4 separate regions of the Homo sapiens genome follow, and all the other regions are linked to region 1. Evidence: fine-mapped expression QTL. A gene starts in region 1. Each other region holds a variant in brackets. All regions are shown on one strand. Distances are from middle to middle.

Region 1 (8,105 bases):
TGCCCCTACTCCTTATTTAGGTCTCAGCTCAAATACCACCTCCTTGGAGAAATCTCTGCTGACCACACTTGCTGAACTGACAGCCAGCTCCTCCCCTGCCCTTCTCTGATATGGGATGAATTGTGTCCCTCTCTCTTTGCAAAAACATTTATGTCAGTACCATCCGAGCCCCGGATACGTCAGAATGTGACTGTTTTTGGAGATAGGGCCTTTAAGGGGGCAATTAAGTTAAAATGAGGTCTTAATCTAATACGAATGTGTCCTTCTAACAAGAGGAGATTAGGACACAGACAGGCATATAAGAAAGACCATGTGAAGATATAGAGAGACGTAAAAGCCAAGGAGAGAGGCCTCAGAAGAAACCCACCCTTCCAACATCTGATCTTGGACTTCTGGCCTCCAGAATTGGGAGAAAATAAATTTCTGTTATTTAAGTTACTCAGTTCCTGGTGCTTTGTTATGGCAGCCTTAGCAAGCTGGCACACTCTCTATCCCTTTCCCTGGTTTTATACTTCCTCAAGAGGCAGGTTAATGCTGTAGCGTGGTTAAGAGCGTAGCCCTGGGTGTGGCTGCAATAAGGGCAGTAGTAGTGGCAGCAGCCACTTCCTGTCTATAGACAGAAGTGACTGGTGGGAATGTGGGTTTGGTGATGGCTAGTGCTGAAGACAGGCCTGGGTTAGGCTTGAAGGACAAACAAGGAAGGTTAGGCTGAGGTGGCCAGGGCTGAGGTTGGGCTGGAGAAGGGGTTTTGCACCTGCGGTGGCACCTGGGACACCTCTTCTCCCTGATGCTGTTGGCCTGCCCATCCAAGGCAGGAGGGGCTAGCTCCCTTCTAAGCAGGTTCTGGCTCTCACTCTGTCCCAGGGGGCTCTAGTTGCAACCCAGGTGGTAAGACCTTGTAAACCATCATTGGGCACATTACTGCCACCAACCCTATTTCATTTGTTGACCAGGTTTTGGTGAGCCTGTTCATTCAGCAAGCTAGAAGGGGTGGATTTTGCAAAATAGTTGAGGCATATATTAGGCCCCCACTAAAGGCCTTGGATATGAGTAAGTACATATAGATAACTGGGACTAGAAACAGCAGACAGCCACAGTCATTTCGTTCTGAAACTGGAAATTACTTTGTCTTCAAGGCATAAATGGTTCCCCAGAACACTCAGCCTCTCTTTCAGTCCCTAAGTCTGCCAGCCACCCAGATTCCAGTTGTTGGCACCAGAAAGACCAAGTGCCCTGAGGCCTGACTCAACTCTTCACTTGTCACCCAGATGTGTTAACACCATGTAGACACAGAATTGCCAAACTTGCCTGGGCTGCCCAGGGTCCAAATGTGAAAACTGGAAAGCAGCCGCTTTGCTCTTTTCTGGCTGTTCCTGTATTCTGCTGTCTACACGACTTAATACCAAGATTTTTGTTTATATTTCATAGGAACTTCAGCTTTTGTGAGACATTCTTTCCCTATCTGGCCCACTGTAGTGCTAATTTCTGGGAAATTTCTCTCCTCTTTTCTGGCTTGTTCCAGGTTCACTCACTTTTTATATTTTCATAATTCTTCTATTCTCCTCTCTTTTTCCTTTCTCTCTGGTTCTATTTTCCTATTTAAAAGGTGACTTTAAAAAACTGGCTTTGCTGCCGGGCGCAGTGGCTCACGCCTGTAATCCCAGCACTTTGGGAGGCTGAGGTGGGCAGATCACCTGAGGTAGGGAGTTTGAGACTAGCCTGACCAACGTGGAGAAACCCCATCTCTACTAAAAATTGGCCAGGGTGGTGGTGCATGCCTGTAATCCCAGCTACTGGGGAGGCTGAGGCAGGAGGAGAATCACTTGAACCTGGGAGTGGAGGTTGCGGTGAGCCGAGCAAAACTCCGTCTCAAAAAAATAAAATAAATAAATAAATAATCGGCTCTGCTTTCTTCTCCAATTACTGTCTTTCTTTCTCTTTTCTGCTTATCCTTAAAGACTTTCCCTTTTTGTTCTCATCTTCATCTCCTACTCTCTTCTGGCTCTAACTGAAGTTCTCACGCAGCTTCCCTCCTGACCTTCTGGACAGCCACCTGCTTTCCCAAGTTTCCTCCTTTCCCTCCTGTGGAGATGCCTCTCTTAGAATCCTTGCTTTTATCAGCGGCTTACAATCTCTGCATCCGTAGAAACCAGACAGCCTTTTTGTTTGAGGGCTAACACTTGCCTTGTCCCTATTTCAAATAACACAGTGAGCTGTACATAGAAGTTACTCAATGATATCTTAATTGATTTTATTGGGTTCCTTTTTACGCTTATCTTAGAAAAGGGATGTGACTTTGGATTGGGTAATAAAGAGCCGTTTATTGCATGTGTACAAATTATAAATTCCCAGGCACACCCTGATCATAGCAGGATCCTTTTGTTAGCTTTATGGGGCATGAAGTTGGCACCAAAGTATTCATGGGGATGTACAAGTAAGGAAGGGAAGCCAAAAGCATGTCTGATCATACAATCAGGTGTAAGCAAGCCCCCTAAGTAGCCAGGGCATGAACTTTGTCTATCTCTGAAATGACCAGAAGAAAAGGCAAGAGTGTGATTCATCCCTTGCCTCCACAGCAATTCATTTGGCTATCTACTTTTCTTATTACCAATGGCTAACCCTCTAAGGGTACCACTCCTGGCCATGAGGCCTCATGACTCAAAGTCTTAAGATTTATAGCATTTTCCCTGGAGACCAAGGGCATTCCTTTGGGTGATACCTTTTTACTACCCAGAGGTTAGTCATTTACTATGGGTGATCCATTCAAATAAATTGGTTGCCAGGCTACCTCTTCAGATAAGAGTTCAAACTTGCATAAATAATCCCCAGCCACACTGTGACTTCTATGTGCAAGCCTAGAGGGGACGATGTTGCAGGAACCGTGCCAACCACTAAGACACTTTCAAGTTTATCCTAGAGAATGCCAAGACAGCTTCTCAATTCCATCAAGTGAGTCCTTCACAGGAACATTTCCCTAAGTTGAAAAACTGCAGGAAATAATTTATCTTTATGTTATTAATTGGTTACTATAAGGGCTACAGGAATTATTTAGGAACCAGATGATACCTGGTTTTCTCCATAGTTTACATAAGCCAGTCCCTGCAAAGATTCTTCCCCTACCCCCCTTAATTTTTTTTTTTTTCCTCAGAGATCCTTGTTCCAACCTGCAAGGATTCTTTGGCCTGGTGCTTTTCCAGGTAAAGTGTAAGAGCCAGGATTTCTGGATTTTGTTCCTAGACATGAGTGAGCTTGGATAAGTAAATCATTTTCTCTTTTAGTCTGTTTGGGCTTCTGTAACAAAATATCATAAACTGGGTAGCTTATAGGCAATATACATTTATTTCCCACAGTTCTGAAGGTCGGGAAATCCAAGATCCAGGCCAGCAGATTTGATGTCTGGTGAGGGCCTGCTTTCTGGTTCACAGAGGGAGCCTTCTGGCTGTGTCTTCACAAGGTGGAAGTGGCAAGGGGTCTCTCTCCGGCCTCTTTTATTAGGGCACCAATCTCATTCATAAGGACCCTGCCCCTATGACCTAATCACTTCCCAAGGCCTCCACTTCCTAATACATCACCGTGAGGGTTAGGATTTCAACATATGAACTTTGGCGGGATATAAACATTCAGACTATAGCACCCTGACAGTAAAAATGAGATAATAATACTTATCTCTTTCTTCCAACAAAAAGATAAGGTGAAGTTAAAAGGAGGGTATATATATATATAATGTGAATTTCCTGTGTAAAATGTGTTAAAGAGTTGTCTGATTAATTGCTTTATAAGGGAATTGCTTTGAGACTAGGCCTATTGATCTAGAATAAGTAGTCAATTTGTAGTCAGTTCCCTAGGGAATAGACATTGAAAAGATTTTTGGTTTTGTATTCTACAAATAAAGCAACCTATTAATTGAATTCCTCTCAGCGAATTCTTCACTCAGGTGATTCTGGAGAGGGCGGGGGACAGACGCGGCCGCAGCCCAGGTCCCGGGAGCGCCACGGAACCTAACGGTGGCAGCGGAGGTCGCGCCCCTCAGTGCCCGCGCTCTCCCCGTCGGGAGCTTCCTGGTCGCCCCTGCGGCGGCGGCTCGGGGTGTCTGGCCGGCGCGGGGCTCGCCCAGCCTGGTCCGGGGAGAGGACTGGCTGGGCAGGGGCGCCGCCCCGCCTCGGGAGAGGCGGGCCGGGCGGGGCTGGGAGTATTTGAGGCTCGGAGCCACCGCCCCGCCGGCGCCCGCAGCACCTCCTCGCCAGCAGCCGTCCGGAGCCAGCCAACGAGCGGTGAGCTGCGCGGGGCGCGGGGGACGCGGCTCCGGCCGGGCAGGGGAGAGGGCGCCCGGGCGCTGCTTGGGGCGCGGTCCGGAGAGGGTTCGGCTCCCCGGGACCGGGCCGGGGCGCGCGCGGAGAGCCCCACAGCCTGTGCTCTGCCCTCCAGGAGCGGGGCGGCGGGCAGCGATCTGGGCCCGGGGCAGTCGCCTTTGATTATCGAGGGCGCTGGCGTTCGGGGAAGGTTGGCAGCACCTTACGAGACCCACACACGTCCCCGGGGCGGCACGGGCCACCTTCTGCGGAGCCTCGTGGGCTTCGCCGCCGTCGCACCTCCGCCGCCTGCGCTCTGCGGCCCCAGAGTAAGCCCCATCCGGTGACGAGCCGCAGTCTGGTCACCCCAGTCCCACCAGGTCCCGCTGCGAGGGGAGGCGGAGGGGCTCGCTCAGCAAACCAGACGGCCGCTCCAGTTTCTCTAATTGGGGTTGGAGCCCCGTCACCCTTCCCCAGATCACGGCCGCGGGGGAGCGAAGGGACTTCCCAGGACTGCATAGGGCGCCTCCCGGGACCCACAGCTTGGCTGGCCCGGCCCCTTTTGAGCATCAGCTGAGGCTGGACTTGGAGGAGATCTCGCTGTGGAGCGCGAATGAGTTCTTCCACCGGGACCAGCTGCGGCCGGGCTGCAGCCGCTGTCTGGTTGCTGATCCCACAGAAAATGGTGCTTGCCCCATGGCCTGAGTGGGCATGACCCGGCTTTGCAAAGACTGCAAACTCTAAGCTTTTCCGAATCAAATGCCCCTCCCTGCCCAGACTGTCTGTGCCCAGGAAATGGTGGGTGTGGCAAAATGTTGGTCCTAGCGTGCAGAGCCCTACCGGGGGGCTTTCACAACATGTTTGAGAGTTTATTCTGAATTATCGGGTGCTCAAATAGAAACACTAAAACGATTGCCCTCTGAGCAGTAGGCGTTCAGGTCCAGGGAGTCGGGGACGCATGGTGGAGGCTGGGACTTAGGTTTCAGCCTTACCCTTCAAGTTCGCCATGCGGGTTCCAGAGACTGCGGAATGTTTGTAAAGTGACTCTGGGAATTGGGTTGCTGCGCAATGAGGACACCTGGACCTCAGTGACTCAGGCTGTCTCTAGGATTCTGGGGAAGAAATGGGAGAAGGCTCAGTTAATTCTGAAGAAAATGAGACTGATACAATTAACTACTTGGGCACAGGGCCTGAGAAGAAAAAGCTTTCGTCAGCTTCCAAAGTTCTGATTTGTTTACCTAAGGTTTTTTTTTTTTTTGAGACGCAGTTTCGCTCTTGTTGCCCAGGCTGGAGTGCAACGGCACTATCTCGGCTCACCGCAACCTCTGCCTACCGGGTTCAAGCGATTCTCCTGCCTCAGCCTCCCGAGTAGCTGGGATTACAGGCATGCGCCACCATGCCCGGCTAATTTTGTATTTTTCGTGGTGGTGGTGGTGGGGGGGGGGGGGTCCCTCCATGTTGGTCAGGCTGGTCTCGAACCCCCGACCTCAGGTGACCCGCCTGCCTCGGCCTCCTAAAGTGCTGGGATTATAGGCGTGGGCCACTGCGCCTGGCCTACCTCAAGTTTATAAACATTTCATACTAGGAAATTGTGTGTTTCCATAAAAGGTAAAGTTGAATAATGATCATTTACTTTTCTACAACAATAGTCTCCCTTTTAGACATTGACTCTCAATCCTTAGGGTAGGGTCTCTCATTCTAAAGATGATCATACCCCATCCTTGATCTTTGGGGGACTTAAGCAACTTCCTAAATTCATAATATTTAGAGGTGATGTTTAAAATCAGCACTTAGTCCAGATTCTGGGGAGAAGTTTGATGATGGTCCTTGAATATTTAGCACTTAGAAGTGCTAGGAGGATGCCTCACTAAGTTACGTAAGAAGCAGAAGAGGACGAGTACCGCCTGATGGATTGACCCCGAAAACTAGCTGTGTCCAAGTAGAATAGGTGTCTCGCTCTGTTAAGCGGTCTTTAAACTATGATAGTTCGCTGTACTACAAATATGCATAGGTGCTTTACAAAGACTTTTCACTTAGTGAGGTCAAGAGGCTAATGCTGGTCTCATGTATAATTTAGGTACCTTTTTACATAGAACCCTCATTAGCCAGACTCTAAACCTTAACTGCAGCCAAGACCTTTGTTCATGTAGTATGCCTTCAGAATCTCGTGTTGACCTTAAATGCCAAGTGGCTTGTAAACTTATGTACTTGATACTTGTGGTAACTGATCTCAAACATAGCTCTTCTTTCCTGTGATCGTTTGGGACACAGGCTCCCACTCAAGGGTAGCTCCTTGTGTCTGGTGCCTGAACTGGATCTTCTCATTAAATTCTGAGTGGGTAACTTAAGAACCAGTCTAGGCTGTGCTTGCTGTATACTTCCAGTTCGCTATTGACCAAGTGTCATGTGTTCTCTTTTGAACTGTTCAGCTTTTCCGTAGGGGGGAAGATCAGTCATGAGAAGCAGAAAGTAACTCTACCTTCCTTGATGCCAGGGAGCTATGATGAGAAAGAAATCCTAGGAAAGGACCAGTTCCCCTTATTCCAACTTAGCATCACTGAATTTGTCTTTGGCAAATGGGCTTTCCTCAAGTCCTGCTCTGTGTTTCAGCAAGGACAGGAAGTAGACTGCCTCTTGTGTTACTTGAGGAGCAGTGTAGGGCAGTGCCTAGGGGCTCAGGAAGTAGTCTTCTTCTGTGACGGTTGCGCACAGGTCAGGGACCTTTATGAGCAGACATTTCAGAAGTGTTCCTGGGAACCCAGACAACTGGACTGATTGCTGGGTGGGCCTAGAATAGCATAGTGCAGCGGATAGCTACTCTTTGTTAAAGGGAAAAGCTACCAATTAACAGCCGATTAAAATGGTCTGTATTCTAACTCATGTTTAAATTCCTTATTCTGAAGCTACACTGAACTGCTTACTGTAGGTGTTTACAAATGTGGAGACCCAGCTAGTATTTCTCTACTTTTAGTTTATTTTTTGAAGTTTTTTTTTTTTCCCCTCTGACTGTTCAAAATTCTCTGATCCTGGAAACACCAGGGTGGGGTTCACATATCTATAGTGTCTGTAGAGTGGGAAGATTTGTGACATTTGATTGTATGTCTCTCTCTGTAAACTACTCATCTGAAAAGAAAAAAGAAAAAAATTTCAGGCAAGTAAGGATGATACTTATCTGAATAGATGTCTTTTTTGTTTTCCTGAAAGTTTTGAGGTTAATAATCTTGATTTCAAAAGAGCATCAGTTATAATGCTTTTCTTTTCTTTTTCTTGAGATGGAGCCTCGCAGTCTCCCAGGCTGGAGTGCAGTGGTGCCATCTTGGCTCACTGCAACCTCTGCCTCCCGGGTTCAAGCGATTCTCCTGCCTCAGCCTCCTGAGTAGCTGGGATTACAGGCGCCCACCACCACACCTGGCTAATTCTTTGTATTTTTAGTAGAGATGGGGTTTCACTGTGTTGGCCAGGCTGGTCTCAAAACCCTAACCTCATGATCCTCCTGCCTTCGCCTCCCAAAGTGCTGGGATTACAGGCATGAGCCACTGCACTCGGCCTATAATGCTTTTCAAAAAAGAAATCTCATGGTTGGAAGTTGACGGGGCATACCCAATTTTTGGAAAAGTACACTTTATTGGTTAAAATGTCATTATAATTAGCAAATGACTATACAAAATGGCATTCTTGTATTCAATATTCAATATTATTTTGTGCTTGAATGAATCACCCAGTTAGTTTTCTGACCAAAACACAATCCTTTTTAAAAAATTTGTTTACAATTTCAGTATGTTATGTAGTTACAGATGAGTAAGTCAGAGAATTAAT
Region 2 (8,105 bases), 79 kb before region 1:
AAAATAGTGTGGTAAGAGTACCCATGATTATAGTTTTTTATCAGAATTTGATAAGATTTTCTGTTTCTGTGAAACAATTATTTTAAATATTTTTCTTTTAAAAATAACTTTTTATCAGTACAGAAAAACCTAAGGGATGACTAGCTTACAAATATTCTGTTAAGGGGTAGTTTTATAAAGAAAAATGATATATAGTTATGTTGTCTTTTATAGTGTTAAAATTAGTATTTATATGAAAGTCAAGATCTAAGTACCTTTTCATATAATTCAAACTGATTGCTTGTGATATGTTTTCTCTGGCTTTTTTATTTTTTCAACTTCAAGGTATTAACAGCTGTTAACACTTAAAAAGTACTGCCACATATGTAGCCTTGAAGTAGTTGATCTAATAAATGAGAGCAGGGAGGAGATTCATTGACTCTGAAATGATTTTTATTTTTCCTTTGGTATTTGCTACAGTGAAAAGAAGTTTGGAAAGTAGATACATAAAGACTTGAGAAGGGAATTGTTTAAGGGAAAAGAAAAGAGTAATAATTTTTTTTAAAACATTAAGGAATTGGAATTCAGAAAGGTTACCCCCTTCCTCTGTGTCTTTGTAAGGATACATTTGGAAGAACATACAGTATTCAGAAACTAACCTATATAAAATGTAAACAATATATTGATTGCACTATATAAATGAGTAAATTTTGAGAGGAACAATGTGGGAATGTATAAATTTGTCTAAAATTTTATAACTGTTGAACAAAGGGAAGATTTGAACAGTGTAAATTCCAGAGTTGAGAAAGCATTTAGCATGGTGGAAATGTGGAGAGCTTATTGGTGAGAGAGGATGGAGCTAAGAGAAATAAGATCAAATATTAAAATTAGGAATTTAGGCATTACCTCAGGGAAAAGCCTTGACAGTGAAAAGAAACTACTTAATCGCTAATAGCTAGTCTGGACCAGACACTTAACTGCGCTTTGGGAATCATCCTGGGCTAATCAGGAAATAAACTTGACTTTTCTATTTTTCTCTGAAGCTTTACAGGACATACTCCCACTCCCATTTTTTTCTAAGCCTACAGCATCTTGATTCATAGTATAATTCCTGAAGTATGCTGAATGGACTTTTTAAGGTTCCTTTAGCATTTTTGTATAGAGTTATATGTGATCTTTCTATAACCATGCCATTCACTTAAATAATTCATGAAGGGAATGGTTTAATTTAAAGGAAGACCTAATAGGAAGAAGATTAAAGGAAGCTTTTAGTCAGCCTGTGGCTAGATTTATTGATTTGGTGATCAAACCTGTGCTATTTCCTGAATTTCAGCTAATGGCCAACTGTGGTCAAAGAATGGCTTTCAGTTAAAGTTTTGACTTCTTATTATAAATAATATAAAGAATGTCTCAGTAATTAGAAATCCCTTAATAAGTAGAACAAATGTGGCAAGTAGGACTCCTATCGGTATACAAATTCCATTTCTTTTTATAAGAAAAACACATAAACCATTATCATTTATTCATGAGCCAAAGCCATTAAGAAGATAAATCCAGTTATCAGCTTCCTGTCTCTGAAGTTTGGATCATTTTATAGATCCACGCAATAGAGAGCTTCCTTCCTATGAAACAAAAACCTTGAGATCTCTTTTTTTTTGAGACAGAGTCTCGCTGTTGTCAGCCCAGGCTGGAGTGCAATGGCGCAATCTCGGTTCACTGCAACCTCTGCCTTCCAGGTTCCAGCAATTCTCCTACCTCAGCTCCCAAGTAGCTGAGATGACAGGCGTGTGCCACCACGCCCAGCTAATTTTTGTATTTTTAGTAGCGATGGTGTTTCACTACATTGGCCAGGCTGGTCTCGAACTCCTGACCTCAGGTGACCACCCGCCTCAGCCTCCCAAAGTGCTGGGATTACAGGCATGAGCCACTGTGCCCGGCCAAGATCTAACTCACGCTTACTTTTCATTAAAATATTTCTTGTCGCTTTTAGCTATTGTCAGAATCCAATAAACAGCTTACGCATTCATTTTGGTAAAGCAAATTTCACAGGAAAATAGACAAAATTATAAGAGATTCCTGGAGACAACACAAGGAAAACAATGTTTAAAAGCAAAATAGCCTGTGTAATGTTAGGTAATGTAATGCCCAAGTGAATAAAAGATTTTTCGTCAAGCAAACTACTGTTTCTACTTTGGGGGAAAAAAGTCAGTTTTACATTTGTAATTTAAGGAAAGAACAGAAAGCACAAAGGTTTTTCTTTTCTTTATTAATGGCCTACTAGAAATGAGCAGTGCAAGAGTCTACCTGTACTATTCTAATACAGTAAGATATTGGACACAAAATGGAGGTAACTTTTTAAAATAGATTGGCTTGGAAGTTGAAATGTAGATTAATGGATATAACCCAATAGAAAGGGATTTTCAAATAAAACCAAAGTCTATTTTTTTATTTACTTTCTAATTTTGAACAGATGACTCAGTCCTAAATCTTTGCCTTTATTTCCTATAAAATGTAGGTGATACTTGTAACTCGACTTCCTGGAGTTAATTCTTCAGCAAGAGGTGACCCTGGGAGCGTACTTTAAAATAATTGCTGTACAGCCATTGAGTACTAACATGATGATAGGTTTTCAAAATATCTTTGTAGTGGATGCTGCATAATTACATTCACTTCTCTTAGACTGTAAAAGACTTTCTTGACTTGTTTTAACAGTAGAGATAGCAGTACAATTTGAATTTATGGTTTAGGCTCTGCAATTAGAGGAACAATTGCAGTTTCCTCCTACCCTTCATATGGTCTGTGTAAAACTGATGTTTGCTTAACTTATTTTAAAAGTTGATTACGTTTTCAGAAAATAAAGATAATCACTTTTGCCATGGTTATAATCAAATCTAAGCTTTCAGACTTGAGAGCCATGGTGTAAAACTCAAGGAGGTTTATTTAAATTATGCTGACTTTGCTAGAATTGGATAAATTCTGTATAAGCCAAGTATGAGTTCACATGTACTCGAATATACAGTTTTCACAAAGCTATTACTCTCATCAGTCAGGCTTGTATGATCTATTCCTTACCACAAAAGAAGTAGACAATTGCCACTTTTATTTCTAATCCTTAAGTTGAATGTTTCTTCTTGGATGTAAGTTCAAATAAATTGATCTGGATAAATTTTCATTTCTACTTAATTAAAACTTCCTATGTAAAATCCAAAGGCTTTGTGTTTTATTTTAAAAACATAGTCTTTACTTCACACATTCAACTTAGAATCTGAAAAAGATAGAGAAACCCATATTCTTACATATTTTCTAATTTATAATACACTCCTTTTAGTTTTTTTGTGTTTGGGACTTCCAGAAGCAGGTGCCAAAATGTGATTAGAGGTGCAAGAGATTTATTTGGAGTGAAACA[C/T]CTAGAAAGATAGAGAAGGGAGCAGAAGGTGGGGAATTCTTCATACCACACAGAAAGTCTGACACCTAGAAGGAAGGATTGGGTAGGGGAGCTTCGGACTTCAGTGCATCTTGAGACTGCTAGATGAGGACTTGGTTCCCAAGCAAAGGTTGCCTGTAGAGAAGCCCACAGGGACAGGAATGGCCTAGATCTAGACCCCTCCAACGTGCTCAGCTACTGGCTGATTGCAGGCAAGGAAAAGTTGGAGGCTATCCATTACTGGTACACAGCGCCAGGACTAGGGTATGGTGAGGCACTTAGGGACAAATATTTGACTATACGACTAAGGAAGACAATGTTTTGGTACAATATTGTAATATCTGAATTGATGCAAAAAAGCCTATGATGAGCAAGATACCAAATTTCAAATCAAACCTGACCAGATTACTGATTTCTTGTTGCTTCAGGTTTCAGCATGGCTCAAGGCACTGCTGATTCACTGTCACCAGTGAGAACAGGCTAGGTCCACACCAGTCGTGTAATTTTCCATAGGCCTGTGTGCCCTTACCCAAAAATAAGACTCTCGGCTTAGGTATTTGAAGTTCCTCTGTTGCCCCTTTTTCAGTGTGAGAATTGTGTGTGCTGTGGAAAACATCCAGGGATGTCTTCCTTTAAACAAGTTCATGGTTAAATGGCCACCCACTCACTCACTAATGCCTTACACAAAGCAAGATGCAAGTGTACCACATACTTTTAGGATATTTTTATATCTTAAAAAATGTATATTGGCCGGGCACAGTGGCTCACGCCTGTAATCCCAGCACTTTGCCGAGGAGGGCGGATCACAAGATCAAGAGATCGAGACCATCCTGGCCAACGTGGTGAAACCTCGTCTCTAAATACAAAAATTAGCTGGGCAAGGTAGCGCGCGCCTGTAGTTCCGGCTACTTGGGAGGCTGAGGCAGGAGAATCGCTTGAACCCGGGAGGCGGAGGTTGCAGTGAGCCGAGATCGCACCGCGCCACTGCACTCCAGCCTGGCGACAGAGCAAGACTCCGTCTCAAAAAAAAAAAAAAAGTATATTGCATATATGTATATATTTTGCACACCATATAATTATCACGACATCTTTATTGCTAGTTAGTAGGTTCCTTGACTGGGGTCATGTCATCTGTGCCTGACACAGGAGGTAATGTTTATTCAGAAATGAAGATGGCGGCTGGGCACGGTGGCTCACACCTGTAATACCAGCTCTTTGGGAGGCCGAAGCGGGCAGATCGCTTGAGGCTAGCAGGGTGAGACCCCATCTCTATCAAAAACACAAAAATAAGCCGGATGTGGTGGCACATGCCTGCAGTCTCAGCTACTCGGAGGCTAAGATGGGAGGATTGCTTGAGACCAGCAGGCAGAGGTTGCAGTGAGCCGAGATCGCGCCACTGCACTCCAGCGTGTGTGACAGAGGCCCTGTCTCAAAAACAACAAAAAAGAACATGGGAGAAGAGGCATTGATGAGGAAAAATCTACAAAGAAAGCAAATATCAATTTGTCAAGCTATTTGCAAACGTCTTCCCTTTCCTGTATTAATATTTTCCCTCTCCCCACTTTTGGCCCGAGGATCTGAGTCCTCGGGTCAGGCCGAAATCAGACCGCGTCCATACCCAGCCTCCTTCGAGGCCTAGCTGTAAAAACCGCTGAGCAAAAGGAATCCAGAATCAGCCCTCAAGCAACTCAAGACAAGTTAGCAATTTCCGCCGGGAAGCCGTGAACATCGGCAGCCACTGGCGTTTCCTCCGAGTCCTCGGAACTCCGGAAACTCTGGGAGCTTTTAGCCCGCCCACCAGGGGAAAGCGGCCCGGAGCCGGCGCCAGGTGGAGCCCATCCCCCTAGGCCTGGCGGGCCGCAGTACCGCCAGGGGCCTGCGGGAGGCGCACGCGGCGCGGCCTGAGGGGAGGGGGAGAACGGGCGGAGGCGGTGCGCTCGGCGCTTCCTGTTCCGGCGCCAGGAGGAGCCGCGCGCTGCTGGTGCTGTTGCCGCCGCTGCTCTAGCTGCCGTCAGTCAGGCTGCGCCCGCGTCTTCAGGGCCCAGTCCCTCGGACCCATCGCCGCTTCTAGACCCTACTGCGGTCTCGGATATTGCCGGGTGAGGCTGCTTCGGTACTAGTGGGAGTCGTGAAGGGGAATCGGGGAGCTGGGGTTGCGGAGCCCGCGGGCGCGGCCAAGCGGGAAGCGGGCGCGGTGACCGAGGTGCATCGAGTCACGTCCAGTGCTCGGGCCGTGGTCGCCTGCCTGGCACCAGGACTAAGCGTTTCTATCGGTCGCCTTCCTCCACGCTGCGGGCTGCCTGGGGATCGCCCCCCAGGGAGAAGGTGTCGGAGGCCGCTGACGTCGCGCCCGACGGGTTTCTGGGCGCCTGACGTCAGGTCTGGCTGCGGGGCGGGGCGGGCGCGGGCCGGCCCCTCCCCCACCCCTTCCCGGCGGGCGCGACCCGCTAGGAGGCCGGTTCGCTCCGGTTGATCCCGGACTCCCTTTGTTCGTGCGTCCCTAAACGGCTGCCGGCCTCGCGCCCCTTGGCCCCGATTTCCCCTCTACCCCCACCCTATTACACTCATTCATTAATTTTTAATAAAAAGGGAAAGGCCTGAAAAGATTCTTACAAGAGTCTCGGGCGCTTGTTAATCCGCAGTGTGACAACGTTCTGGTTATGACTTACTAGAGGAATTGCTCACGGATACATTAGATGAATACCCAGGGCAAACCACGAGAAGGGCAGAATTCAGTGATCTCCTTTTTTAGGACTGAGGAGCACATACCTGCGATAGCGTATGCATAGCTGGACCGTTTTCCTCTTTACCTTGAAAAGCAAGAGTACAGCTTTTAATAGGTAAAGATTCCAGTGTTAAAGCATGAAGCCAGGCTCACTCGACCGCAAGAATTTTTTTTAGTTTTACTACTAGAGAAATACACACCTGGGGGTTGTAAAGGTCTGTTTCGAAAAGGAACCCTCATTACAGGCAAAGGTAGCCTTCAGAAACATTTCATAAGTTCTTTGTTCACTGGTGTTCTTTGGGGGAAGAATAGAAATTTTTCATGCTGGCATCTCTGAGCCCACAATGCAAAGCGAGTTTGCTTCAGAAACTTGGAGTGAATTGCAAATATTGGAATGTTCTTTTCCTCACTCCAGGCGGAATGGGTAAAATCCATCCCCAGTCTCTTAACTGAAACTTTTGAAGCTAGTGTGTTTTGAATTCAAAAATACTTGGATTTTATCTTCATCTTTTTAGAAAGTCATGTTAGACGAGAGATAACACCCCCAGCAGAGTGGGGCACCCCATAATCCAACATTAATATTTGCAGCAATAGATGTGAACATTCATTCTAAGTGGGGGCGAATAGAAACTATAAATAGCTTCAGGTCACATTTTGCCACCATGTAAGTTTTGTGCCAAACTAGGGCAGATAAAGATTTATGGACCTAAAAGTAGGCATCATAAAAGCTAATATTTGTTGAGGTTTTGCTATATTCCAGGCAGCGACTAAGAGATTTGTTTATTAAAAGTTTTACAGCAAATCTATGATGTGGGTACGATTCCGATCTTCCTTTGCCTCAAGTTTGGAGAGTTGGACTTGTCAACTCTGGCCGAACCAACCAGTGAAGAGCTGCAGTTATAGCTAGATAATCATACTTTAACGTTTACTTTTTTACCTATAAGCTAGATGTCCACATACAAAGAAAAGAGAATTTGGTATTTGTTTTCCACCCAAGCACTATTTTTTTAGGCACTTGATTGGACAGAGTCCCATTTAGTTCCTCGCAACATTACTGGCCTGGTTTTTATTTGTTTTGTTTTTTAAACTGCGTGCTTTTTACAAATAGTATGGCCTGTTCTTTATAGTTCGGGTTCATTCAGATGAGCCGACTTTTAGTGAAATAATTCAAACCCTCGTCTAAGGTCACTCTGCTAAGACTTTAATACAACCCTTCCCTTTCTCGCTATATTCTAACCCATCTGAACTGCTTATACCTCCCCAGAGATTCTCCCAGTTTTTACACTAACTGCTCTTCTTTCCCTAGGGCCCATTTCACCGCCCTCTACTCCCGGCTCTTTCCTTATGGTCCTTATGGACTGCAAAAGACAGCACATCTCAGGAATCTCCATGTAATACTATAATTTCTCTAAAGGCCAACACATTGTTTGGCATATATGTTCCAATAAGTATATAACTAAATGCCAAGAAATATTGCAGGTTGCATATCCTTTATCCCAAATGCTTGGGACCAGAAGTGTTTCAGATTTTGGATTTTTTTTACATTACACCAGTTGAGCATCCAAAATCCAGAATGCTCTAATGAGCATTTCCTTTGAGCGGCATGGTGGCACTCAAAAAGATTCAGATTTTTGAGCATTTCAAAACCCCCGTTTTTGAGTTGCCCAAATGTAAAAAATGGAACATAAGCAGATAAATGAGCCAATACTAAAAACTAGCATGTATTCTAATTTATAATTTATATTTTCTTTTTTTTTTTTTTTTTTGGAGACGGAGTCGCTTACTGTAAGCTCCGCCTCCCAGGTTCCAGCGATTCTCCTGCCTCAGCCTATCGAAGCGAAGTAGCTGGGATTACAGGTGCCTTCCACCACGCCCAGCTAATTTTCTGTATTTTTAGTTGAGATAGGGTTTTACCATTGGCCAGGCTGGTCTTGAATTCCTGGCCTCAAGTAATCCACCCACCTCGGCCTCCCAAAG
Region 3 (8,105 bases), 320 kb after region 1:
AACAGAGGTCAATTCTATGGAAAATATGGCTTTTACTCGTATTTTAAGAGGACCTGTCCCTCCTCACAGAAAAAAAAAAAAAAATATATATATATATATATATATATATATATATATATATACACACACATATATACATATAATATATATTTGAGACACTCCAGGCTGGAGTGCAGTGGTGTGGTCATGGCTCACTGCAGCCTCAACCTCCCAGGCTCAAGTAATCCTCCCACCTCAGCCTCCTAAGTATTAGTTATGACTGCAGGTGTGTACCACACACCTGTCTACAGGTGAAAACTCCCATCTCTACACAAAATTTTAAAAAATTAGCTGGAAATTAAAACAAAAATTTTTGTAGAGCTGAGGGTCTTGCTATGTTGCCCTGGCTAGTCTTGAACTTCTGGGCTCAAGCAATCCCCCCCCAACCTTGGCCTCCCAAAGTGCTGGGATTATAGGCGTGAGCCACAATGCCTGGCCTCTTCATAGACAATTTAAAAATGAACCTACATTCTACATTAAATATAATTTATATGTAACAATTTAAGAGTTGAATTGCTTATGATTAGTTGATATTTTATAGACATTTAATCAAATTCACTAATTTCAGTTTTGGAATAGAAAAAAATGTTTGGAGTCAACAGACTTTCTTAGCTCTCAAACAATTTTACTGTCCCTTGAAAAGCTCCTAAGCCCTGGGCACTGAACCTCAACCTCTCAAATGCAGTCACGTCACCACTGGGGCCTGGGATTCTCTGGCAAGAATAATGAAGATGGAAATTCAGTGTTGGAGGGATGTTGAGAAACATTGTTCACTAGGGGGCGCACTTTCATCTCCATGAGGGGAATACCTTCTGGTTTGGGGAGAAAACAAACAGCTTTGAGGGGAGAGAGGAAAAAAAAAAGGGGGGGGAGCATGCATTCCCTAAATGTTAAAGAAAAAAAGGGTAGCTACTTCTCCATGGCAGAAGACCAGAGGGTACTTCCAAAAATAAATAAGATTAGTTACTGTATCAGTCAATGTGAATATATGTGCTATTTTATACAAGGAGGTCCTATTTATAGGAGCTAAACGGAAAGTGCTTGTAGAGTAATCCACATTCACACTATCTTGATGGTTGTTAAATGTGAGGGGCAATTTCGCTGCCCAGGAAAAAACGGAAAAGAATTTGCATAAATGAGATTAGGTTTCTAGAAGCCATGTTGGGAGAGAACTTTTTTTTAATGGTGGCAATATTTGCTAAATGCAGCCTTCTCTTTCTTTTAGAAGCCATGGACATTGGGTGTGATTGATCTCTACATGGAGCTGTCAGTTTCCAGACAGTGATTTTATACACAAGAATAGGGAGGTGGATTTGAGCACTGCACAGAGGCCTTTTCTAGATCAAAATTCAATGAATTCTTGTCCTTTCAGTAATCGTTTGAAATAAAAACCCACAGTAATTCTTCCTCCCCCTTTTTGGTGGAGGTGGAGCATGAACTTCAGCATCTGGGAAGGAGCCTGTGTAATGGCTTAGTCAGGAGCTGCTGAAGCACAACACAGATAACCTTGATCTCCATAGTCTTTGCTCACCAACCCCAGTCCACTGAAAATCTTGAATCATAATGGTGCAGCTTTCCTTCTCAGGCAGTGCTATACACTGGCCATAAAGAAGACTTGCTGTGTTTAAAGTTTCTCAGGAAAATGGCTTAATTTCACGTAATATTAAAGACAAGAATTAAAATTTCACAAGTTTCTTTTTCTCCCTTGACTGATCCCTATTATTTTCTTTCTGTGTGAACATATTCCATCACAGCGTTTCTACAATAAATAATGCATTCTTTTAGAAAGCATATTATAACTGGGAAGTGTTATTTATAAGCATCGTTTTGGCAGTTGTTTCATGGAAACAGAACCAATCAATCAGCACTGATTCTGGGCAGGAGAGAGTTGCTTTACCATTTTCCACGCTGAGCACATCAGGGATGTCTGATCCCAGACAGTAGCTACCTGTCTCCTGCCACGCACAGCAAAACAGGGAGATTAGGTTTTACCGTATTTGCTTGGGAAAATATGGATGAAGATTTCAGCTTCTGTCTGCTCTGAACTCCACTTTTTTTTTTTTTTTTTTGAGACAGGGCCTCACTCTGTCGCCCAGGCTGGAGTGGAGTGGCACGATCTTGGCTCACTGCAACCTTTGCCTGCTGGGTTCAAGCAATTCTCCTGCCTCAGCCTCCTGAGTAGCTGGGATTATAGGTGCACACCACCACACCCAGCTAATTTGTTTGTATTTTTAGTAGAGACGGGGTTTCACCACTTTGGTCAGGCTGGTCTCGAACGCCTGAACTCAGGTGATCCGCCTGCCTCGGCCTCCCAAAGTGCCATGCCTGGCCTGAACTCCACTTTGTGTGCACCTGACTAGGAATGGATTTTTGTATGTGTTTGTACTTGTACTAACAATGAAAATCTTCTATATACATCTACTAGGTACCCATAAAAATTAAAAATCTTCTAGAAGACTTCGGTCTGAACCACGTATCTAGAGCACTGGCCTTCTAGAAGGCAGCTTTATAAAATAGCTCATGGGATTATGTAGGGGAAGATTATGGTGTGTGTAGAGAATTACCAGAGCCACCACTAAAGGCTTCCACAGCTCCTGTGAGGTCCTGGAGAAGCAGCAACCTTTGGGAGGAGGCCGGAGGCAGAAGTGAGTCAGCACACCTACCCAGTTCCTGAGAAGAGGCTCCCTAGGGCCACTGAGTCACTCTTCCCTTAAGCCTGGGAGTCAGCCCCTCCCCTATCCCCTTTTTTTCACTTCTATTTCAGAACCACATCAGTGCTAAGAGGTACAGTGTACAGTGGGAATAATAAAATATAATTACCATGATGACAAATCAGCAAATGATGCTGTTTATGAAAGGAATTCTTTGGATATGCTGTACTTGGAAACACCAGACTGGCAACTCTCCAAGTTGTCCTGCTTGTAAATCAAAGGGAAAACTGTTGGCAGGGAGTTTTGACCAAGACTTTTCACTTCGGGGAAGACCTGAGTACTTTCCTGCTGGTTGAATGTTGCATAGAGGAGTCACTCTTCACGACATTTCCAAACATGTCCCTGTATTGACTATCTCAAGATGACTTAGCTGTCATTCCCTCCTTCTCCCTGATATGTTCGCTCGTCCATGATTCTGTGCGAGATACTTTTTAGAATCCATGAAGGCTGCAAAGATGACTATCTTTAAGGAACTTACAATATAGTAGGGACAATATATGATAATAAAGATAAGGATAATAATAGCACATATGGATGATTTGCTATGTCTGGCTAGTGTTCTAAGTCCGTTAAAACTTCTTTTTATCAAAATAATGCTATAGGCTGGGCACAGTGGCTCACGCCTGTAATCCCAGAACATTGAGAGGCCGAGGTGGGCCGATCACCTGAGGTCAGGAGTTCAAGACCAGCTTGGCCAACATAGTGAAACCCTGTGTCTACTAAAAATACAAAAATTAGCCTGGCATGGTAGTACATGCCTGTAATCCCAGCTACTTGGGAGGCTGAGGCAGGAGAATTGCCTGTACTCAGGAGGTGGAGGTTGCAGTGAGCTGAGATCACACCACTGCACTCCCAGCCTGGGCAACAGAGAGAGAGACCCCATCTCAAAAAACAAAAACAAAAAAAACCAAAACCCAAAATAATGCTAAAAATAAATGTAATAATCATCTCTGTTTCAAAGATGAGGAATTGAGGCCTACAGAAGTTAGGCAACTCACTCAAAGATAAGCTGTTCATACAAACACAATATCACAAAGTCAAATTCAGTTGAGTTTCTTGGCAGTTCATAGGAGGGAGAAATTCCTTCCTGGGGCTAGACATCAAGGCATATTTCATAAAGGAGGCAGCAAGAGACCAAGGTCTTAAAGGGTATACGGGTTAAATTGTGGCCTCCCGAAAGACATATCCACTCGGAACCTGTGGTTGTGACCTTAGAAAAGGGACTTTGTAGATGTAATTAAGGCTCTCAAGATAAGACCACCCAGGATTTAGGATGGGCCCTAAATCCAATGACAGGTGTCCTTATATGACAAAGGCAGAGGGAGATTTGAGACACTGAGACACAGAGAGAAGAAGGCCACACATGTGAAGACAGGCAGAGATTGGCAGCCCCAAGCCAAGGAATGACAAGGGCTGCCAGCAGCCAGCAGCAGCTAAGAGAGAGGTATGGAGCGGATTGCCCCTCAGAGCTGCCAGATGGAACTAGCCCTGCTGACATCTGGATCTTGGA[C/G]TTGTAAGAATACATTTCTGTTGTTTTAAGCCACCCGGGATGTGGTAATTTGTTACAGCAGCCCTAGGTAACTAACACAAAGAATACGTGAGAATGGCTGTGAAACAACAGCTCAAGCAAAGACACTGAGGTGGAAAAATACAAAGGCTTAGGTTTGTTGGCTTTGGTTTGTCTGAAGCATAAGGATCCTGAAATGGAATGTGTTGTTTAAGATGTGGATCATATTATGGAGGGTTTTGAATGTCAGGTTAGGAAATGTAGATTTTATTTGATGATCAGTGAAGAACTTGTTGAGTTGTGTATTCAGAAAATGAAGGTGTCCCTGAGCTAACAGGAGGTAATATGGGCCTGAACTAGGGCAGGGACAGTGGAATGAAGTGTTAAAAGAAAAACTTCAGCTGAATTGAATTTCAAGGAGTTTAATTGAGCAATGAACGATTCGTGAATTGGGCAGCCCCCAGAATCAGCAGATTCAGAGAGACTCCAGGGATGTCTGGTGGTCAGAACAAATTTATAGACACAAAAAAGGGAAGTGACATGCAGAAATCTGAAGTGAGGTACAGAAACAGTTGGATTGGTTACAGGTTGGCATTTGCCTTCTTTGAACACAGTTTGAACACTCAGCAGTCTATGAGTGGTTGAAGCATGGCTGCTGGGATTGGCCAAGACTCAGCTATTGTTACAGGCACATACTACTAAATTAGGTTCTCAATCTTGTCTGCCTATTAAGCTAGGTTACAGTTCGTCCACAGGGACTGAAATATAGAAGTATGGGGTCCTTCTTGGGCCATATTTAGTTTGCTTTAACAGAAGGGACAGAGAGGAAGTGTGTTGCAGGACTCAAAGAGACTTGGCAATCAATAGATTCTTGATCTAACTTGCTAAGTAGGTTGGTTCATGTTTTACCTGCTGTTGTTTACACGTGTTTGTCTTCTGGGCTGCATAACACCCACACTCTAAATGAGCTACCCCAAGTCATTTGGCTGCCTGTCAACTAGGATTATTAGCTTTTTCTGGCTCCCTGGTAATTAATCTGTGTTCTAGGTTGAGGACTTTCCCTTCTCTGTCTCTATTCCGCTTATGTGAGCTAAACCTTTGGAAATTGTTTCAATACCCCATGTCGCCTTCCTTTGGTACCTGAGCTGGGGGCAGGAGGCAGGGTTTCAGGGCAACTATGCTGGCCTCACTCCAGCATCCTATTATAGATCCTGTCTCAAAACACTTTATGCTGAATATGGTATAGAGGAGGCCTTGATCAAGCTGTGACATCTCAGACAGATGTGAACCTTAGAGCCATGTAAAGAAGTTGGACATTACCAATGCCCTGGAGACCTTGAATGTGGTCTGAGGCTTCAAGCCTTATTAGCATCATATTCTGTTTTTTAGTTTCCCCAAATCACACTGACCCTTTTGATCTGGCTTTCTAATATTAGACTAGTGGGAAGAAAAGAAGAGGAACCAGTGTTTACCCAGGGCTTACTCAATGGCCAGATGTGGTGTAAGGTGCTTTGTATACATTACTTCATTTAATCTTTACATCAGAAGTATGAGGCAGGTGCTATTATCCTCATTTTACAGATGAGGAAATTGAAGGGCAAAGCAATTAAGTCACTGCACAAGGTCACACCGGGAATAGAGCTGCCAAGATACAACCTTGGGATTTTCTCAGATATCACACCACCTCTTACCCAGGATATATTTTTTTTCAGTGTTACTAAGGTGGCAGAATTCAGTTTTTGGCATATGTGCAGGATTTGGCTGGTGCATGCTGGGTTTTGACTTTGTGCCATGATTTTGTACGATCATTTCCCCTGTGGTCCCTCCTATAGCACATGCCCTGACCTAGCACTTCCTGGACATCAGCTTTGAGAATGTTTGAGAACTTTCCAGGCTGATGAACTTGTGCTGTTTTCTGAAGGAACAAGAGCATGTTTTAGCCTCACGTGGAAGTTTTCTGGTTGCATGCCTAGGTTTGGTTGAATTGGAAAGAGTGAATAAAATGGATCCTCGTATATAGCCTTGATCTCTGCATTGGTCTTGGAAAAGAAATGACTTTGGTACAGTAACTGTGGGTAGCACTGCCTGTAAAACCTGTGATGTTAGGGCCTCTGTTCACACCCTCTAATCTCTAAACCCAGGCCAATATCCTTAGGAACCAAGCCAACTGTCCTTGGTCCATGCTGTTTTTGTCCCATCTTCCACCTGCTCAACCCCAGAGTGCATTTCTCCTTCTTTCTGCAATCCTGAGTCTAAACGTTGTTCATACCTCCGCTCCAGATCATTTCCTCCATTAAGCCTCTCCCAGCCAGCTTTCCTTTTCTGAATTCCTGCAGCCAGTTTGCTCATATGATGCTCTTGCCAGCTCCCTGATTCTGGGTCTGTGTATTATCTCTTTAACTGACTGTAGCCTCTTAGAGTGAGGAGTGCAGTCTTCCTTCTGACCCCATGGTGCCTGGCATAGTGCTGGGCATGCAGTGGGGGCATCAATTATTGATTGAGATCTACCTTTCAGATTCCTGCTCTCAGAAAATGGAGTAGAATGGAAGGGCTGTCTGTCTCTAAATGATAACAGCACATAAACTCCTGGATGGAAATATACCAACATTCACAGGGGATATTTCTGGGTACCGAGCTTATTGGTGGGTTTCATTTCTTCTTTGAACTTTTGGTATTGTCCAAATTTTCTACAATGAACATTTATATTTTACTTCTTACAAAAAGAGTATTTTATAAAAGTGCATATTACTTTTAAGAGAAAGGACAGTGCCTTTTTTCCATCCCCATTTCTATCTCCTTGATGCCCATGGAGATATGATTTTTCGATTTAACCATGTGCTTCAAGATCAGGAATCTAGATTTCTCTTTAGCCCTGCTATTGACTTTTTAATTTTTAATTTTTTAATTTTTTGTAGAGATAGAGTCTCATTTTGCTGCCCAGGTTGGTTTCAAACTCTGGGCTCAATGATCTCCCACCTCAGCCTCCTAAAGTGCTGAGATTACTGACTTTCTGAGCGCCTCTTAAAACTCTCATTGCTTTGGTGTCTCCATCTGTAAACCTGACCAAGTGATAAAGGAATTCTTATATCTGCCCTTTTCCAGAACTGTAAGGCATTTGATGAGGAAATGTTGCAAAATCACTTTAAAATAATCTGATAAATGTTTACAGACCCAAGTTATTTGGCTGTGCATGCCCCAGATTTCTATGCACCCCATTCTCTGTGCAACTCAGTTTTCTAAAGCACTTTTTGTTGGAAACTCAGCTCTTTGTTTAGAATATTTTAGCCTCAAGAGTACTGTCTTAAAGAATATTGGAAGACATATGGGATTTCTGCTGAAAAGTACCATACTAGGACTGTATACTGGGAGGCAGAATAGTGCTGTGGCTAAAAGTATAGGCTTTGGACTCAGTGTCCCTTGTCCTGAGAATGTTTGAGAACTTTCTGGGCTGATGAACTTGTGCTGTTTTCTGAAGGAGCAAGAGCATATTTTAGCCTCACGTGGCAGTTTTCTGGTTGTATCCCTAGGTTTGCTTGTATTGGAAGGAGCGAATAAAATGGGGCCAGGTGCGGCGGCTCATGCCTGTAATCCCAGCACTTTGGGAAGCTGAGGTGGGAGGATCACCTGAGGTCAGGAATTCGAGACTAGCCTGGCCAAGATGGTGAAACTCTATCTCTACTAAAAATGCAAAATTAACTGGGTGTGGTGGTGGGCACCCATAATCCCAGCTACTCAGGAGGCCGAGGCTGGAGAATCACTTGAACCCAGGAGGTGGAGGCTGCAGTGAGCCGAGATTGCACCACTGCATTCCAGCCTGGATGACGGAGGGGGACTCTGTCTCAAGAAAA
Region 4 (8,105 bases), 350 kb before region 1:
ACCCACAAAAGGGGGATCTGAAAGGATAAAAATGGGTTGTTCTATCAATCAGCACCTTAAGTGGTAGTGTGATTTTTTTCCCCCTTCGTGCTGTAGACAAGCTAATTATAGTTGGTGGCAGGGTGAAGAGCCCAGTGCTAGTCTATTTTGGTCTGCAGTCTCATAGTGGAGCAGTACAATTCTTGATTTTTCCATAGTACTTCAGCTTCTTGCACGCAGTTAAAAATAAGCCTGGTTGTACTTTAGAACCCATTACCTTAATATAGTTTTAAATTGAGGAATCCAATTACATATTAAAGATGAACTGCAGTGACAATTTGTGGGAGAAATTAAGGGTAGAGGAAGGGTTAAGCCTTAAACAATGATAGGGAATTGTTGGGACATAAGGGAATGAGAATGTAAACATCCTGAAAAATTAACATTCTATTTTACACTTTTAAAACATGAGCAGATAATTTCTTCACTTGCACCTGAAAGGGTCTGAATTCATTTCATTTCTCGGTGCATGTATAGAAGCTCTCTGCCCGTGGTGTTAAAATTTTGGGCATTTATTTGCGTAAGCGTGCCTTAAAACATCACTATTTTGGATTTAAGGGAGATAAGGCCAGTTGAAGTTTGTGAAAAGACTTCATGAAAGATTAATTTTAACACTGAAGTGTGATCACATTCCAGCATATATAACGGTTATTTATTAAACAAACATTTATTTAGCACTTACATATGCCAAGTGGTATCCAAGCACTTTAAGAATATTAATACATTTAATCCTCATGACAACCATGTGAGGTAGAGCTGCTGTTGTTAACCCCATTTACAGACAAGTTCATAGGCAGCAGCATTGGGGATTTGAACCAGGCAGGCTGGCACCAGCTCCAGCTCCATGCTTTTAACCCTATGGAAGCCAGGCAACTCTCATGGTCTCAGGATGATGAGCAGAAAAGATTGTTCAGGCAAAGCGACACTCTTCAGGACCAGTTCCCTGGCCCCAAGCCCTCTGGGGTTGCCAACCCTTGTGGGTTGGACTAGACTACCTCTTTGCCCTGAGGATTCCCGATGGCCCAGATGAAAGGCAAGGTCTGCTTCCTTGGCCTCCTGCCCTGGGGCCTACCCCCATCCCAAGTGGCTTTTCTCTGAGAGCAGCAATACTTTTCCCAGGTGAATAGAAAAGGTTCCAGACTCCTCTTGCAACACCAGGCCCTTGGGAGACAAGTTCCAAGAGGAAGAAGGCATTCGGAGGTTGGAGATGAAGATGGGGCGGCTCTTTGCTGCTCCTCCCAAAGTCCCACCCTGGCCTCTGTCAGCCCTGTGTTGTCATTGGTCCACATCCGAGAGCCTTCTGGAGGTGGAGCAGGGGACATGAACCTTGACCTCTCCAGGGTGTTTGTTAGTAACACTTGGATTGGGCTAACCCAAGGTTTGCCAGGTTGGAGTCCTAATGGACCCCTTTTAATTGATTAGATAAGAATGAATCGCTTGTGGATGTTCAACTGGATGTTACTATAAGGCTGGAAAATGTTTTATACTCATAAGTATTTCCTCTGGGATCTTTTTGTGCTATTAATTTGCTTTGAAGACCTGTTTCTCCAATAATACAAAGGTAACTGCAACCCAACCCCTGCTTGAATTATCACAAATCCCAAATTAATTGGTTCTTATTAATGTTACTTTATCAAAGACTTTTCATGCATTTCAACATTTCAGTGTAATGAAATCAGATTTAGAAAGGTAAGGCAAGAGAATGAGAAAGGAAAACTTGCTTTTGTCACTTTGTTCTCTCCCCAGAAAGCATTGATGATTTCATTAAGCCTAGCGATCTTAAGTAACCCAAGCATTCACTCTGGTTGCCAGCAGTGGCAACCCTCTGCAAAGCTGGCTTTGTAATAACCCTCGAAGGGTCCCATCAGGAGAGAGAAAGATGGCCTAGCCAAATTCTCCCCTCATCACGTCCTACTCCCCTCCCCTATACAGCTGAGTCCTAAGAGTCCCTGGATCCCTCCTTTCTCCAGTGACTATAAGTATCCCATAACAGAGTCCTCTTCCCACATTATATTGCTTAAGAATTCAGTCTTGCCTTCCTGGAAACACAAATCATTTTAGCATCACTCATTGACTCTGTATTTTGCATATGAAATAACTTTTTAAAAATCCAACCAAAAAGGAAAGTGAGAAAACGCTATCCACGCTAAATAAGGAAAAATCATAGCAGAATACTGAATCATCTACCAGGTGGCCAAAATTCCGACTTCAGAACTCAAAGGACTAGTTTTCGTCATTAAAAACAAACAAACAAAAAAAAAAAACACTCGGCCCTTGTCTCTACCTCACGTAGTCAGATTGTCCTTCCTCCAAAGGAGGTCTCATCATGTGAAACTTATTCTACCCCTCCTGGCCCTGAGTTCTTCCTTCAAACCAAAAAATCTGAAGCCTTCGTAAAAATGAAAACGAAATTTTTAAAAGGGAAAATGGGAGAAAAAAGGAAGAAAGGCCAAGACAAAGATACCAAGAACCTGTGAGTGTCCTCCTCACCACATTCAGATGAGCTTCTGACCAGAATCTAGAACTCCTTCCTTGGCCACCAAAGCCTGGAAGTAGAAAGGCACAAGCCCAGAATTCTCCTTCCTGCCACTTCTCCCCTTAGGAAATTTAAGAATTCTGGGGAGAAGAGAAACATTTTCTGAGATCTGCACTGCTGGCTCAGATGCCCCTCCCCCTACATACAGGCACAGCTCTCTTTCTCAGGAAATGACTGTTCTGCAGGCCCCTATCACCCTCAACTGGTTAAACTACGTCAGCCCTGCTTCCCGGAGTCTCCCCACAGGCTTGGTACAAACCTCCCCTGTGTCGCTGGAAAAGCAGATCTCTTCCATCTTGTGGCCACTGGAGGTAAAACATTTTGACTTCAACATCCGTGAATGACTACAGCTGACTCTTCTTGGAAAGAATGTGCTGGTTCCTGAAACCCTGCCGGCTGCTGTATAACCTCCCGGACCTGAGGCGTGTCAGAGAGGATGCGTTCTTCAGTGCTGAGGTCACCCAACCCAACGGCAGCGCCGGCATCTGCACGTGATGCTAAGGGCTCTGGCAGCCTCCCTGCCCGGACCCAGGAGAAGCATGGACCTGCCCTGGCCCTTATGCAGCCGACTTTGCAGGGAGGGCCTGTGAAGTGAAGGCAGTCTGTGTCCTAGGTCCAGAACACTTGCAAACATCATCTCCGACCTTATATCCCTCGCCCCACAGGTGGCATCAGCTCTCCCATTTGAGGATGCGTCATGATGGCAGAGACTCATTGGTTCATTCATTCAACTGCATTCACTGTGCAGAAACTGATTCAGGCACCGGACATGCAGGATGGATGAGGACAGACATGGAGCTTACATCCTGGTGGGCCTCACAGGCTTCTCCAAGTCCGCCACACAGACAGGCTGAGCAGAAACAATGATAGGATTAAAGAAGGGAGCCCTGGGACAGGAGTCAGACCAGTTGTGACCCTGACTCTGCTGTTTTCTTGCTATGTGGCCTCTCAAAAGCATGTGAGTGTTCAAGACCTGTGTCCTCATCTGCAGCAGCATGGGTTGGAGAAGATGCGGTAGGGAGGCGCAAGGCGGCAGGCAGAGTGCTGGTGAACCTGCTGAGCCTGCGTGCCAGCGCTGCCCCCTGCTGGCTGTGTGACCTGTGCACAAGGATTACGCGCTGTTTTACTTCTCCAGCTACAAAGGAGAGAGCACCTACTTCATAGGGTTGTTGCAAGGATCGAAAAATAATGTCGAAGTCCCAGGAAGTTCCATGTGATACCGCCTCTCAGATGTTAGCTGCTGTTTTAATTATAGTTATTTGCTGGCACACAGCTCCCTGTAGGCTTCATAACTGTCAAAATGTGAGCAGAGGCGGGGTGCAGTGGCTCACGCCTGTAATCCCAGCACTTTGAGAGGCCGAGGCAGGAGGATCACTTGAGCTCAGGAGTTCCAGACCAGCCTGGGCAACATGGTAGACCCTGTCTCCACCAAAAATATAAAAATCTGTAGTCCCAACTACTCAAGAGGCTGAGTTGGGAAGATCGCTTGAGCCTGAAAAGTTGAGACCAGCCTGGGCGACATAGTGAGACTCCATCTCTACCAAAAAAAAAAAGTTAGCTGGGCATGGTGGCACATGCCTGTAGTCCCAGCTACTCCAGAGGCTGAGATAGGAGGATCACCTGAGCCCAGGAGGTCAAGGCTGCAGTGAGCCTAGATCTCACTACTGCACTCCAACCTGGGTAACAGAGTGAGACCCTGACTCAAAAAAAAAAAAAAAAAAAAAATGAGGAGACCTCCAAGGCGACATCCCTTGGGAAGCCTGTGGCTTAAAAAGGGCTGAATAACGACTGATATTCTCTTCCTTCTCTCTTGGCTCTCACAGTCGAGGCTTTGGGCAATCCAACTCCCTCCCGAC[G/A]GCTGGCTCTGTGGGCGGTGGCATGGGCAGACGGAACCCGCGCCAGTACCAGATCCCCTCTCGGAACGTCCCTTCCGCCCGCCTGGGCCTCTTGGGCACCAGTGGATTCGTCAGCTCCAACCAGCGCAACACCACAGCTACCCCCACCATCATGAAACAAGGAAGACAGGTTTGTTCTGCCCCAAGGAAGGAGGAGGATGGCCAAGCTCAAGGCCCAAGGCTGCAGATGTCCCCCCAGGTGACCCCAGGGTGGGGAGAGAGGCCAAAGGGGACTATGCTGGGGGCAGTTGCCACCATTCCTCAGAGGTAACAGCATTGTTCGCGTTGTTCTCTAGCAGACAGAGCAACCCCATAGCTGTGTTTAGGATGCCCAGAGGACCACTTTAACCTTGGGGACCCTGCACAAGAGGACCTTTAGAAAGAAATGCAAGACCTATTTCTTCTTTGCCCCATGCTTGACCTTCTGCCACCCAAATCTGGGTTCCAGGAGAGCCTGGCATTTAGAGAAGTTTCTTGCCCTTTTTATCCATGGCAAAAAGCTCCTTTGTCTCAGTCCCAGCTCTGGTGGAGCATCCACAGGACAAAGTCTGAGAGAGTGTGCCAGGGGGAGAGTTAACACATTCTCAGCCTGCCCAGAGGTTCTTGCTGTGCAGTTTAGAGCTGACTTCTCTGGCCCGTCGCTCATACCCCTCTAGCCCCAGGCCCCACCCCTGCCCAGTGCCTTCCGCCTGTGTGCCCAGAGCTTCTCGAAGCTCTGTGGGTAGGGATTAGGATCAGAGGGACACAAGTAGGTCTGAGGTTCTGGGGTCTCAGGAGAAACTAAGGGATGACAGATCAGCTTAAAAACAGGAAAAGGGCTTCAGGCAAGACGGGCAGGATTCACTACCCAGGGTACCAGAAAGCCCCATCTTCTGACCATTGTCCCCAGCCCCCAGATCAGTTCAAGAAGACGTCACTGCTGGGACACACAGGCTGAGTTGTGCCAGCTCATTGCCAGCTGAGAGTTTCTTTTCTCTCCCCCTCGCTTTGGAGTACATTGTAAGAATCTTAAAAAAAAAAAAAAAAAAAAAAAAAAATCAGAGCCCTGAAATAGTTTGTGCTCTTCGTTGCATACATTTATAGAACTCCCCCATTTCCTAGAAAAGTGGCAGGGAAAAAGCAAAAGCAACAAATGCGATAAAAAGAGTTCTGCAGATAGGGAAAGAGGTGTCCAGATGAAGCTGAGGCTTACAGCAAGGCCACCACTGAGGAGGTGAAGAGAAATTACAGTGAATGGAATCTAAACCCTCTCTCTATAAATAAGCAGATGCTAGCACTGGCCTGCAAGCCCCTTTTCTAGAAGTTAGAGTTCTCCTGGGATCTTTGCCTCCCAAATTCTTGCTGGCGGCTCTGCTCTCCACCCCAGTGGGGCTGAACTAACAAGTTCCCCTTTTGCTTTTCTCACCAGAACCTGTGGTTTGCCAACCCCGGGGGCAGCAATAGCATGCCAAGCCGCACCCACAGCTCAGTCCAGAGGACCCGCTCGCTGCCCGTGCACACTTCCCCACAGAACATGCTGATGTTCCAGCAGCCAGGTAGGGCCCGGCGCTTCATGTCCCCTTGACACAGAGGGGAGGCCAAAATAGATGCCCTAGCAAACCCAGCCAGAAAGTGCTTAGCCTCGACTGTCACCGTGCATTCTTTGGAGCTTATAGAAGCCTTTCCTTTTTTAAACTGTGCCTTGCCAGCATGAATAGCGGCGGCTTGGCTGAGAGCCAGCATGTGGAGCCCCAGAGTTGGTTGCAATCGGATGGGGATATTTTTGATACTAGTCATATTTCTAGATTGATTAAACCAGAGATAGCACAAGAGGGCTTTGGTGGTGGGGAGGTGGGAGGGCTCCATGTGTAGTGTGTGTGTGTGTGTGTGTGTGTGTGGAAAGAGAAAGTGAGAGTGAGACAGAGAAAGAGAAAACTGTTGATGCTGAGACCTTCCCCCTGGTTTGGGCTTTTCTTGCAAAGTGATGACTGTTGTACCAGCCATCTTTCCTTTACTTGGTTAAAGAGCAACTTAGCACACTTCAGATCAATTTCAGCTTTCACTATGCTTCCTAAAACAGAGTGGTTGGAATTATGCACAGCTAATGAATACTTGAACCCTTTCTCTATGCAGGCAGTGATCTTGTAGACTTTGTAGACTCCATGAGTAATAACAAGCCACACAGGCAATTACACTGCACCTATCTGGATGGACCCCCCCCCACCCCCACTGCCCCAAGGCAGGCAAACTGGAGATGTGTTGTACCTGTAGGAAAATGCCCTGGACAGTAGAAACGCTCTGTCCAGTAAGTCCTATCTGTAGGAGTTTAAAGAAGAGAAGTGTTACTGTGGCCTGGAATAGGCAAGGAAGCTTCCTGGAGTTGGAGCTGAGCTTCAGGGCACAGCAGAGGGTGGAGAGAGGGAAGGCAGAGTTACAGGCAGAAGGAACCCAGGAGCAAGACTGCAAAGGTCCAGAATACCACAGCATGGCCCGGAAGCCGTGGCTGGGCCAAAGGGTCTGGCTGAGGTAGCAGAAAGTGGACCCAGGGAGCTGTAAAGGTCGTGGCCGATGGTGGGGGACTTTGAATCCAAAGCTGAGGAGCTTGGACTCTGGCCACTCTCCCTGGGGGGATTCCTCCACATGGGGGATTCCGAGTAGAAGTCAGGCAGGAGGGTGCAGGATGATGGGGTGGGGGGGTAGGCTGGAATTGGGAGGTCAGGGAGGAGGAGGACGCTGGAGGACACACTGCTGGGAACGGCATGTCAGGGAGGGGAGCGACAGCTACCCAGTGCAGAGGCCTGCTCACATTGCTTCTTGACTTCCAAAACTCTGCTCACTTTTGTTTTAAAGCTCCTTTTCTCTATATTTATGCACCAAAATATAACAATATAATTACACATATTTCTATATGCTTAGCTATTTTTCTTCCTGGGAAGAAACATGATAAAATTTGGGGGTTCTGAAGGCTTTATCCCAGGGTCCTTTCATCCCATCCTCTGTTTTCACGCAGAATTATGTATAATCCATTCCCAATAAAAAAGAATCTGGACAAGATTTGAAGAGGTCCTGCGCACAAGGAGATCTGTCACCTTGAATGGGTCTTTCACCCTGGCCTCAGTCTCACCAGCAGAGTGACCACTGTCTTCAATTCTGTATACCTTCTCAAGGCCTTCTTGATTTTTTCCCTTCCTGCCACTCTTTTGCCAGTTCTCAGCCTTCCTCTTTGTTCATACTGAATCTTCCCTGAGCTTTCTCCATCTTAACTGGGAAGACTAGGTCCAGACAGTCCCCTTTCTAAAAGCTGGGTTGTCCCGGAGCGCTTCGGGTTTGTTGATAGAATCTTCCACCTATACCTTTGTTTCCCCTCCACTATCTCACAGCAATGCCAAGTGGCTGGCTTGTGCTCAGGGCAACTATGAACCTAATATCATTTTCACTCTTCATGCAAACCCTCTTGTTCCTGTGGTTAAAGAATCAAATAATACAGAAGTGCTGTGAGCAAAAAGTGACTGTCTCTCTCCCCTCCCCTTCCTAGCCCACAGGCACAACCCCTTTTAGCAGTCTGTAGTTACCTGCAAGTCTCTAAATAATATGCTTCGCACACTGGACTTAAAACTCTGGAACGCTTTGAGTGTTTTTTTTAAAATCTCTCAAGTATT

Direction of the effects. Positions count from the first base shown, and alleles are read on the strand shown. Sizes are in standard deviations (SD) of each study's normalised expression. Not every link is listed here.
With allele T in place of C in region 2, the expression in tibial nerve of the gene that starts at base 4,223 in region 1 is lower (moderate effect, 0.69 SD a copy in GTEx).

The links. PIP is the estimated chance that this variant, and not a neighbour inherited with it, causes the effect.
Region 2: its variant is fine-mapped to the expression of LGALS3 in tibial nerve (GTEx, PIP 0.99).
Region 3: its variant is fine-mapped to the expression of LGALS3 in whole blood (INTERVAL, PIP 0.99).
Region 4: its variant is fine-mapped to the expression of LGALS3 in tibial nerve (GTEx, PIP 0.99).

Annotation. Positions count from the first base shown.
Region 1 is chr14:55,125,030-55,133,134 of GRCh38, forward strand. LGALS3 (galectin 3) reads left to right here and starts at 4,223. Exons shown (of 6, transcript NM_002306.4): 1 at 4,223-4,271. LOC124903319 reads left to right here. Exons shown (of 3, transcript XM_047432036.1): 3 at 21-438. The coding sequence ends at 75. RefSeq lists a silencer at 3,919-4,518 and an enhancer at 4,869-5,058.
Region 2 is chr14:55,046,302-55,054,406 of GRCh38, forward strand. It overlaps SOCS4 (suppressor of cytokine signaling 4), which reads left to right. Exons shown (of 3, transcript NM_199421.2): 3 at 1-3,188. MAPK1IP1L (mitogen-activated protein kinase 1 interacting protein 1 like) reads left to right here and starts at 5,346. Exons shown (of 4, transcript NM_144578.4): 1 at 5,346-5,502. RefSeq lists enhancers at 4,708-5,397, 4,937-5,136 and silencers at 5,167-5,406, 5,757-5,916. The variant C/T (reference allele first, on the strand shown) is at 3,386.
Region 3 is chr14:55,445,524-55,453,628 of GRCh38, forward strand. No RefSeq gene overlaps it. Among named protein-coding and RNA genes, the nearest start is that of TBPL2, 9.0 kb to the left of the region's middle. RefSeq lists enhancers at 733-822, 1,897-2,397, 2,162-3,361. The variant C/G (reference allele first, on the strand shown) is at 4,261.
Region 4 is chr14:54,770,539-54,778,643 of GRCh38, forward strand. It overlaps SAMD4A (sterile alpha motif domain containing 4A), which reads left to right. Exons shown (of 13, transcript NM_015589.6): 10 at 4,396-4,597; 11 at 5,876-6,002. Among named protein-coding and RNA genes, the nearest start is that of SAMD4A-AS1, 87 kb to the left of the region's middle. RefSeq lists enhancers at 2,454-3,653, 2,937-3,865, 3,739-3,788. The variant G/A (reference allele first, on the strand shown) is at 4,429.